Linked DNA regions of Homo sapiens: region 1 is linked to region 2. The links come from fine-mapping of genetic effects on gene expression. A gene starts in region 2. The other region holds a variant in brackets. All regions are shown on one strand. Distances are from middle to middle. Region 1 overlaps METTL24 (methyltransferase like 24). Region 2 holds the start of DDO (D-aspartate oxidase).

Evidence for each region.
Region 1: its variant is fine-mapped to the expression of DDO in blood mononuclear cells (TOPMed, PIP above 0.99).

The regions. Positions count from the first base shown.
Region 1 is chr6:110,327,053-110,332,429 of GRCh38, reverse strand. The region is part of intron 1 of METTL24 (methyltransferase like 24); the gene reads left to right. Among named protein-coding and RNA genes, the nearest start is that of METTL24, 29 kb to the left of the region's middle. RefSeq lists an enhancer at 1,830-2,330. The variant G/T (reference allele first, on the strand shown) is at 2,248.
Region 2 is chr6:110,412,958-110,418,334 of GRCh38, reverse strand. It overlaps DDO (D-aspartate oxidase), which reads left to right and starts at 2,760. Exons shown (of 5, transcript NM_001372108.2): 1 at 2,760-2,868; 2 at 4,869-5,044. The coding sequence starts at 4,873. LOC105377936 (a long non-coding RNA gene) reads right to left here and starts at 2,691. Exons shown (of 2, transcript XR_942856.2): 1 at 2,548-2,691.

The DNA.
Region 1 (5,377 bases), 86 kb after region 2:
TCTGTTTTTACTGCCCATGATAAAAATCTAAAATATATTACGTTTTATTCTCTTAGCCATCCCCTGGTGTGTTTCAGTCTTGCTCACATTTGAACCATTTTGACCTACACAGAAAATGTGGTGAATTTAAAGATGTCAATTTAAGAACAAACTCCAACTCAAATTTGTTTAGCCACTCTTTCCAACTTATCAAAATAACTTAGAGGATAAATCCAGAGTTGAGTGTTTATTCCTTCTTGTCTTATATTTTTTATTCCTTCCTAAAAGTTATCAGGACCTGCTTGAATTATAATGCATTTTTTCTTGTCAGAGCTGATTTGATTTCTGGCTCCCCTGCCTCCCAGCCTACCCTCTGTGTCATGCTGCAGAGGCGGCAGATTGGCGCTCTGGATTTGAATTTCAGCATGCCTGCTGTCTGCTGCCAGAGACATTTAGCAGATGGGCTTGCAGAGAGAGAGAGCTGGGTCTTGACAGGGAGGGGGCCTGAGGGGAAGAGGCTCCTATGGGACGGGCTGGCTCTGCCCGTTCTCACCTTGTTGTTTTGACCCTGGCCCACTACTGGGTCTGTCACAAGATTAGCAGAGGCTCAGTTTTTTATTGTTGTTGTCTTTAATATCCAGCACTTTGCTTATGACACATAAAGGTGTGGAATTCTTCGAGTTTTCCTCTGAGGGGTTTGCAAAGCTTCTTGAATCTTTAGGCTATATTTTCCATCATATTTGGGGGGTCTTTCAGTCATTCTTTCTTCCTTTTTTTTTTTTTTTTTTTTTGAGGCAGGGTCTCACTTTGTCAGACAGGCTGGAGTGCAGTGGCACAGCATGACTCACTGCAGCCTTGACCTCCCAGTCTCAAGCAATCCTCTCACCTCAGCCACCAGAGTAGCTGGGATTACAGCTGGGATTTACTACCATGCCTAGCTAATTTTTATATTTTTGTAGAGACAGGGTCTCGCCATGTTGCCCAGGCTGGCCTTGAACTCCTGAGCTGAAGTGATCTGCCCGCCTCAGCCTCCCAAAGGGCTGGGACTGCAGGTGTGTGCCATCGTGCCTGGCCTCATTATTTCTTTAATTTTTTTTTTTCCTGCACTGCATTCTTTCTTCCCCTCCTCTGGAATATCAGTGACATGAATGCTAGACCACTTGGTATTGCTGCACAGGTCCCCAAGGCTCTTTCCCCCCTGCCCACAATAATTTTTCTCTCTGTTTTTCACATTGGATACTTTCTATTGATCTGTCTTCAAGTTCACTGGCTCTTTCTTGTGTCAAATTCTTTCTGCTATTGAATTCATCCCCTGAGATTTTATTTCAGTTATTGTATTTTCTGTTCTGGAATTTCCATTTGGCTCCCTATGCTTCCTATTTCTTTGCTGAGACTTTCTATCTTGCCCTTGGTTTCAAGCATGTCCACCTTTACTTCATGGATTATTTTGTAAATGTTGCTCTTAAGTCTTTGCCAAAAATTTCAACATCTGTATCAGGCCTACATTGGCATCTGCTGATTGTCTTTTTCCCACATAAGTTGGGATTTTCCTGATTCTTCATATGCTTAGTAGTTTGGGACTGTATCCTGAAAATTTGAATATTATAAGGCCGAGTTTTGTTTAAATACTGTGGATAATGTCGATATATTTGTTTTAACAGGCAGTTATCCTGGTTGGGTCCAGGCCTCAAGTTCCCACCAGCCTCCTGTGGGTTGTAATTTCCATGTCAGCTCTGTTTTCAAAGGCTTGGTAGGGGTTTCACCTCTGTCCCATGTGTATCCCATGTATGCCCAGGCCAGTCTGGGGCTTGGGCAGAGGTCTGTCTGTCTGTTAGCTCCAGAGGTCCATCTATTAGCTCAGTTCTCAGTCTTTGCTGTGCCAGGCAGGATCAGATCCACACATGCACAGTTCTAGAGTGAGCCCAGGTGCTTTACAAATCCGTTAATGGGGCTGCCTTCCCAAGCTACTCCTTCTCCCCAGTTTCCCCAGTATTATCCAGTTCCCTACGGTTTTTGAATCTATGACCAGAAAGTTTGGGCTTTTACCCCTGCTTTGCCTACGCTCTGCTTCACACTTCCTGTGACTGTGCCTGAGTCCAAGGCCAAGCTGCGGGAAGAGAGAGACAGACATAGTCAATGAGGATTCACCCCACTCTCTGGGGTCCACTGCCTCAGAGAGGAGAGGAAACTTCCGTTTTCGCAGAGTTCTAGGTGCCTTCAGGCCCCCACTGTGGCTTCTACCATCTTAGTGGGATTACTTGCAAGAAC[G/T]GAGAAAGGAAAAAAAAGGAGGAAAAGTGAGGATTTCCTCTACTATCCCTGAGCATCGGGAGACGCCCCGCCTCCTGGAGCCTGAACTGCGGGGCTGCTCCTGGTGCTTCCTGGCTGCGCCAGTGCCCACCACCGGTGCCAGGCAGCCTAGAGTAGGGCGGGCAGGACACCAGAAGGAAAAGCAATGGTGACCTGGCTTCTAGTTTCGAGGTACTTTGAATTCTGGTCTTCTTCTCCAATCTGCCTGCTACTGTTTACTTTTCAGATTCCTCAAATAACCGCTCTGTGCATTCTGTCCAGGTTTTACTGCTGCATTCCGTGGGAGGCGCGGGGTGGGAGTGTGCTTACCCAGAACGGAAACTGAGATCCTTTGTTTTTAAATGAAATTTTTGCATGGGTTACCTGAATTTTAAACATCACTGCACAATGTATAACTGATTCTTGCTCTTTCTGAAGCAGGGCCGGGTCTGAGAAACAGGCCAATTACAGGAGAAGGCTGAGGGGAAGGCACGTGAAACTGCACCCGGCACTCCCCTCGCAGCCTTCAGAAGCGCTGGGCACACACTGAGGGCGTTACAGAAACGTAACGGCAGTGCTCACAGCCTCAGCCAGGGCTAGAGTCATGTTCTGTCCAGATACCATTTTGTGCCTCTCCCTCCCCCAACTACTCCCACCCCCACCCCCTCTAAAAAGGAATAAACAGTTTCCTTCAGTCATTGTTTCCTGCCCACTAACAGATGCTCTTAATTAGCACAAAATTGCAGCAAAATTGCTAAATAAATCTATTTTACTTGTTTTGGATTTGTTTCTCCCAGAAAGCTTAGGCTTCTCCATCGTCAACACATCAACACACACTCACTTTATTGCTGAGTTGGAGTCGAGGACTCACAACCTAGTTCCTTGTTCATTTCCACGCACACAACTGTGATGCACAGAATTGATGGTTAGCCATCTTTCCCAGCAGAAAACTGCTGGTTTTAAAACCCTTCAGGAGCTCACTGGGGTGGGAACATGCATTTGGGAGTATTGAGACTTTATAAAAAATATCCCAAACACTCTATCAGTTATCTATTGTGATAAAGAAACTGATCATTTACATTAGTCATCATATAATTTCATCCTCCAAAGGACTGTAGCCTTGAAACACAGAGGAATGGGGCATTAGAAGCATCCTTTTGGTTTATTTTATACAAAAAATGTAGAAACATGCTTGTCAAGCTGATGGTGGCACCATTTTTTGGTAATTTCTTCATGGGCTGCCTAAGGTCATTCATGGGTGTGAGGATATGGTCTGTGAAGGAGGAAGCTGTTATTCCAAATTTTACAACAAAGAAAGCTTTTGCATAACACAGAATCGATAGCTCTCTTTTCTAGGTCATGAGTGGGCCTGCTTTTTTTCCTGTAAATTTTTTAAATGCTACATGGTCTTGAATTAATATATTTCTATTATGTACATGAGTGTAAGCTGGTAGGCAAAGGAGTATTTTAAAATATTCCCTTTTTTTGGCATTATCTTTTAGGAGTAAAATCTTGGAATTCAGCTTCATGGCTTGAGAGAATCACTTTCTTTTTTTCAAGAAACAAAACTTTATGCTGAGATCACAAATGACAAAAATATCCCAAAGCCTCATGGCTGTGCTTGTTGCAGTCTTTTTGAGTCAAATCCATTATCTCCATGCACTGAATGACTCAGTGATCACTTTTTACCCTTCGGGAAGTAGAATCTCAGATATCTGCAAAATAGCCACTAAATAACATGAACTAGTTGCGTATGGAATCTTCTGCTGTCCTTAATCTGAATTTTTGGAATTTTTCTCTAGTAATGAAAACATTTGCCTCTCATTAGAAGAAGCCTGCTCACTTTTCAATGCACATTGTCTGGACAAGGTGCCAGATAAGGCCTTTGCAAAACTGAAAGGAGGCTGCTTCCTTACATTGGAAATCAGGACCACGCCTGCCCTGAGAAATGCTTGTCTGAGGTGGGGCAGGCCCCTCTGTATGAATGCCCTGGTGGTTTAGAAATAGAGGGGGTCCCCACTCCTGCAGGAGCTCAGGAACAAAGCTGCTTCTCTGTGGCAACTCATTGTAATACCTCATTTGACATTTCAGCTCAGGCCTCCTGGGGACAGACAAACAGACCAATCCAAAATGATGTTATTTCCAGCCACCTCTGCTTAAGCTGCTGCTTTACCTGTCTGAAGAGGAAGTACAGGTGGCAGGCAGGATTGGGAATCCACGTTCCCACCTCCTGGGAGCAATAGGGGTGGCGTTGTTATGGCCACTTGATATTTGAAACACGTGGATGATAGGCATTTAATGTACCCTGGCATTTAGGGAATTGTTTGGAGTAAAATCACAATGATTAAAAAGAGGTTTTAAAAAGGGAAAGATGATTTTTGTCCTTTTCTATTTAACCTGCCATTGACGTTTTAAGGTGCTCAGAGAATTCTCTTTGTGGGAATTTGGGAAGGACAAATGTTGATGTATACACTAGAGAATTAAGACAAATGATAATTGAAAGAGATGATAAAAGCTAGCGGTTTCCATGGGGAAATAATCACAAACTGCTGTCAGACTGATTCCAATAAGAACATTGCTTTATGTGAAATGTTTTTTAAACAGCTCAACCAAAGCATTAAGCCAGAGCACTTCTGAGGGCATCTATTTGCGGTGTTTCTATTATATCCCCATCTGAGACTCCTCAACTTAACATTATTCACTGTTCCAGCTGCTGTGCTTAGCTTCTTTGTGGTCAACACTCAGTTGGAAATGAAAAATATTAGGTTGCAAGAAGAATACTATTTGTGGACCCTTAAGATCATTCTATAGTTTCACCATATTGATTTACCATATGGATTCTAAATTATTGATCTGTGAAGTTACTTTTGTATGTTAGCTCAGGTTAAATGCTGCTACTGTGTTTAAGATGTCTTTAATAATGCTGGAAAGACCTTTGATGTGCTTTTGGGCTTCTAGTAGTGGAGACTGCTTCCCATGCTCTGCCTTTGTATTTTCAGTCATTTATTTTGGAGTAATACTCAGGCGCTGTACCTTTTTGTGCCCCCAGTGTACCCTGTAGAGATCTCTGTCAGAGCCCCTATAACCGTTATGGCATTTATTGGTTTACACA
Region 2 (5,377 bases):
TGCAGTATGTCTTGGACAAAGTGGCTGCTCCATAAATGTTTGTTGATTGATTTTTATAGTAGGTGCTCAATAAAATATGTATACCACCTGTGATACTGGGAACTATGTATTTGGTCTTCATTCCCATTTCCTGACATATAGCTCCTAAAACCCTTGGAATCCTCAGAGTGATAAGAGTGTCTTTTGTATGCTAATGAGATATCTGGTGGCTGGAGCCCTGTAGTAAGCTTCAGGATGGGAGCTGGTCATCTGGAAATGACAAGACATGATTAGAGAGTGGGGACTTTCAGCCCTATCCCCAACCTCTAGGGAGAAGGGGTTGAAGGTTAAGTTGGTCACTAGTGGCCAATGTTTTAACCATCATGTCTACATAATAAAGCTTTCATTAAAAAAAAAAAAGGAAAAACACAAGACTGTGTTTAGGGAGCTTCCAGATGGCTGAATATGTGGAGGTTCCTGGACGTTGTGCCCCCAGAGAGGGCACGGGAGCTCCTTGCCCGTTCCCATATGCCTAGCCCTGGCCCTCTCTTCCACATGGCTCTTCATCTGCATCCTTTGTAATATCCATATTAATAAATGGGTAAAGGTAAGCAAAGTGTTCTTTTGAGTTCTGGAGCCACTCTAGCAAATTGAACCATTATTAATTGAACCTGAAAAGGGGCTTGTAGGGACCCCGATTTATAGCCCACCAGTCAGAAACCCACAACCTGGGGCTTGTGATTGGCATCCAAAGTAGGGTAAGTCTTGTGGGACTGAGCCCTTAACCTGTGGGATCTGACACTATCTCCAGGTAGCTGGTGTCAGAATTGAATTGAATTAGAGGACATGCAGCTGAAGTGTCTGCTAGGGAATCTGCAGAATGGGATGCTTGGTGTGTAGGGAGACAACCCCCACACACCTGGTCACAGAAAGTGTTCTGTATTCAGTGACTGTGACAGTATTGAGCATAGCCAGAGAAAAAGTTGCTTTTCCCCACCACCCCCTCACCGGCCCTCAGACCACCTTACAAAGAATTGTACATATCTCAACTTATCAGAGACCTACAACAACTTGCAAGGGATTCTTAGTTCATTCTCAGTTTTCAGATGGGCAATCCAACTCAGAAGTCAGGTGATTTGCTCAAGGTAAAAATGCAGGTCTCTTGAAACCAAAGTTTGTGTTTTGGTTAAGGGCTTGAGCTTTGGCTGGGCACAGTGGCTCAAGCCTGTAATCCCAGCACTTTGGGAAGCCGAGGCGGGCAGATCACAAGGTCAGGAGATCGAGACCATCCTGGCTAACATGTTGAAACCCCGTCTCTGCTAAAAATACAAAAAATTAGCCAGGTGTGGTGGCGGGCGCCTGTAGTCCCAGCTACTAGAGAAGCTGAGGCAGGAGAATGGCATGAAACCAGGAAGCAGAGCTTGCAGTTAGCTGAGATAGAGCCACTGCACTCCCGCCTGGGTGACAGAGCGAGACTCCATCTCAAAAAAAAAAAAAAAAAAAAAAAAGAGCTTGAGCCTTGACGTCAGATATCCAGACTGGATTTTACCATTTAAGAGACCCTGGACCCTTCCTTACTGTCTTGGAGCCTCAATGTACTCATATACAAAATGGGGATAGTGATAATAGTACCTACTTCATAGGGTGGTTGTGATATATGATGTCATACATGTGTCTAGCACATGGTTAATGCTACATATACATTATTGAAAATATTATTGTCACTAATTTGACACATCACACTGCCTCCCTGGAAACAAACTTGTTAACTGTGCCTCATGCCTAGAGCTCAGTAGACACTCATCAAATATTGAATCCCTTCTTTGAATATGTGGGCTAAATCAGGGATCCCAAATCCCCAGGCCACAGACCACTACCAGTCCGTGGCCTGTTAGGAACTGGCCTCACAGCAGGAGGTGAGCCGTGGGTGAGCAAGCAAAGCTTTGTCTTCATTTATACCCACTCCCTATCATTTGCATTACTGCCTGAGCTCTGCCTCTTGTCAGATCAGCTGAGGCACTAGATTCTTATAGGAGCACAAACCTACTGTAAACTGCGCACACAAGGGATCCAGTTTGTGTGCTCTTTATGAGAATCTAATGCCTGATGATCTGTCACTGCCTCCCATTACTTTCAGAGAAAACCATCTAATTGCAGGAAAACAAGCTCAGGGCTCCCACTAATTCTACATTATGTTGAGTTGTATAATTATTTCATTATATATTACAACGAATAATAATAAAAATAAAGTGCACAGTAAATGTAACACACTTGAATCATCCTGAAACCATCTCCCCATCCCCAGTCTGTGGAAAAATTGTCTTCCATGAAACCAGCCCCTGGTGCCTAAAAGGCTGGGGACTGCTGGGCTAAAGAATCATGTGGTTCTATCCTAGATTATCTCCTGAATAGTGTTTCCAGCTCCAATCAATCAACAACATTACTCAGCCCTCACCCCCTCCTTCCTGCTTCCCCCACCAGCTGACCCAGCAGAGCCAGGCACCCGGCTAACTGTGGGCAGCCAAACGAGGTTGGAAGTTGGACAGGCTCACCCATTATTCACCATACCTACAAATCAGCTGGAGAAAGCCCAGGCTGGCGGCCAGACAGAGGGCTCGTGGGCCAGAAAGGGAAGGGCTTGGCAGAGACAGCGCCATGGAGATGACAGGTTGAGGTCACTTGCTCCTTTCTCCGGGGCAATGGGTGACAGAGACAGCCATGCAGGCCAATGGAAAGGAAGACCAGGGGGAATGTCCTGAATCAAGTCACCAATGGGAATCAGTTTCGCTTTCTCTCTGTCTCTCAGGGCATGAGACCAGCCAGGCACTGGGAAACAAGGTTTGGTGCCAGAGATTTTGGTGGCTTCCAAGACTGCTTTTTCAGAGACAGGTACTTGAATTCTTGCTTTCAGCTGAGGGGTCGTTCCGTCCATGCTCTGGGAGTTTGGGAGTGTGTCTGAATAGGGTCAGGGGACAGTGATGGACAGGCCACTGTGCCAGGACACACCACATTGCTCGCTCACTCCTCCTCCCTGGCAGCTGGTTATTCTTAGCCACAGATTGCTTGCCCTTTCAACTTAGTTTATTAGAGCTGTTTTGAGAGAGTTGCTGGACATGGGAGGCTGATGTGAAACAGCGAAGTCAATAAGGTCACTGGTGGCTGCAGGACAGCTCTACTCAAGCTGGCCCCCACCAGACTGCTCTGGCCTGGGCCCGTTCCCTTCTCTTCCCTCAGCCCTGGCAGGCCCACTCTCTCTCAGCTGACCAGCCCACTGTACAGCAATCAAATTAACGTATCAAATTAGCACAGAAATGCATAGACTGCTCGAGGAATAGGAATATCACACTAAACTTCATTGGAGGGCTTTAAAGTCTCATAGTGCGAGAATCTTCAGAACTGGAAGAGAAAGCAGAGGCCACTAACAACCAAGCCCACGTTTTTCCTGCCAACAGCCCTTGCTGAGGAAGCTGCCCAGCCTTCCAGAGGAAAGGTGAACCTCTGTGTGTGGGTGGCCATGGTTTGTACCATGTGGCCCAGTACCCTGATTACTGTGCTTTGGACAGAGAAGGGCAACTATGCCAAGGGCACATTCAGAGGCTGGTTTAGCCCAGCAAGTTGGCCTGGTGCTAGAATTTTGTCCAACAGGGGATGCAATGACCAACTGGTACAACTGCATTTTCTCTCTCTGGAGTTTAAACCTGAGCCATACAGAAAGAGTCAGAGCAGGAACAGATGGGGAAAGCCAAAAACAGGGAAGCAAAGGCAGGCGGGGATGCTGACAGTGGAGCAAGGCTCCGTGGGTGAGGGGTGGGACAGAGGGTGCCAGCCTCAGGACACCTGGCCCGGGCTCCGGGATGTCTGTCCCCTGCATTTCCATTCAGACTCTCCCAAGGAGCCCCCTTTATGAGACCGCCTCACTGGGTCTCTCTTATTTACCACCCAAAGGAGCAAGTAATCCATCTGTTCTGTGTTACAGATGAGGGAGTGGAGGCTAGGAGACCACGGACTGCTCCTCAGGTTACAGAACCTGTCCAGGACAGACAGGGGGCCGGTGACAGTGGCAGATGGCAGAGGAGACTGAGTTCAGCTGCTGAAACTTTCTGTAATGTCCTTATTATTAGAAACAACTTTGTAGACAGAGTTGAGTTTTGAGTTGCTCATGGGTCATGCCCCTCACCACTGCTCCTCAGGTAGTTCTGGGAGCAAAGACTACAGCTCTGTGGTTTTCTGTCAACCTTCCCTAGGTTGTGCCCATAGGGAAAATGGTTTAGGAAAGGGGGATGAAGCCGGGCATGGTGGCTCACGCCTGTAATCCCAGCACTTTGGGAGGCTGGGGCCGGCGGATCACAAGGTCAGGAGTTCGAGACCAGCCTAGCCAACATGCTGAAACCCTATCTCTACTAAAAATACAAAAATTAACCTGGCGTGGTGGTGGGCACCTGTAATCCCAGTTACTCAGGAGGCTAAGGCAGGAGAATTGCTTGAACCTGGGAGGCGGAGGTTGCAGTGAGCCGAGATCTCGTCGCTGTACTCCAGGCTGGGCAACAGAGCAAGACCCCCTTTCAGGGGGAAAAAAAAGGGAAGGGTGAAGAATGAGTAGAAAACTCCTCCAAATGCAGACCTACTTACTGGCTAGGTGTTCTAAAGGCAAATCCAAGCCAGTTTTGTGTTACTCTCTAAAAGCCCATGGAGATCTTGTTGCTTATACACCAATATTTAATGGAAAGTGAGCTTATGGGGTTATCCTCTTTATCTCACAAGAAACACCAATAGGCTAAGTCTTATTCTGAGTGGCTGAAGACCTAAGGAAAAAACTGTCAAGACCAAACTTTGTCTGGATGGGAAAATCCTTAAAACAAGGGGTATAGCTCCCATTTCCCTCCTCACAGGCTCATGGACACAGCACGGATTGCAGTTGTCGGGGCAGGTGTGGTGGGGCTCTCCACGGCTGTGTGCATCTCCAAACTGGTGCCCCGATGCTCCGTTACCATCATTTCAGACAAGTTTACTCCAGATACCACCAGTGATGTGGCAGCCGGAATGCTTATTCCTCACACTTATCCAGGTGAGAGATTTCAGCTCCTCTATCAGATACAATAGATGTCAGATAGAATGATGTTAGTGGAATTCTATTGACAAAAGACAGCTGGCTATAGGTGTAAGTGTAATATGCAGGTTTTTTTCTTTTTCCTTTCCTCTTTTTCTCTTTTTTTGAGACAGGGTCTCACTCTGTCACCCAGGCTAAAGTGGAGTGGTGCAATCTTGGCTCACTGCAGCCTCAACCTCCCAGGCTCAAGTGATCCTCCCATCTCAGCCTTTCGTGTACCTGGGACTACAGGTGCACACCATCATGCCTGGCTAGTTTTTGTATTTTTGTAGAGACAAGGTCTTGTCTTGT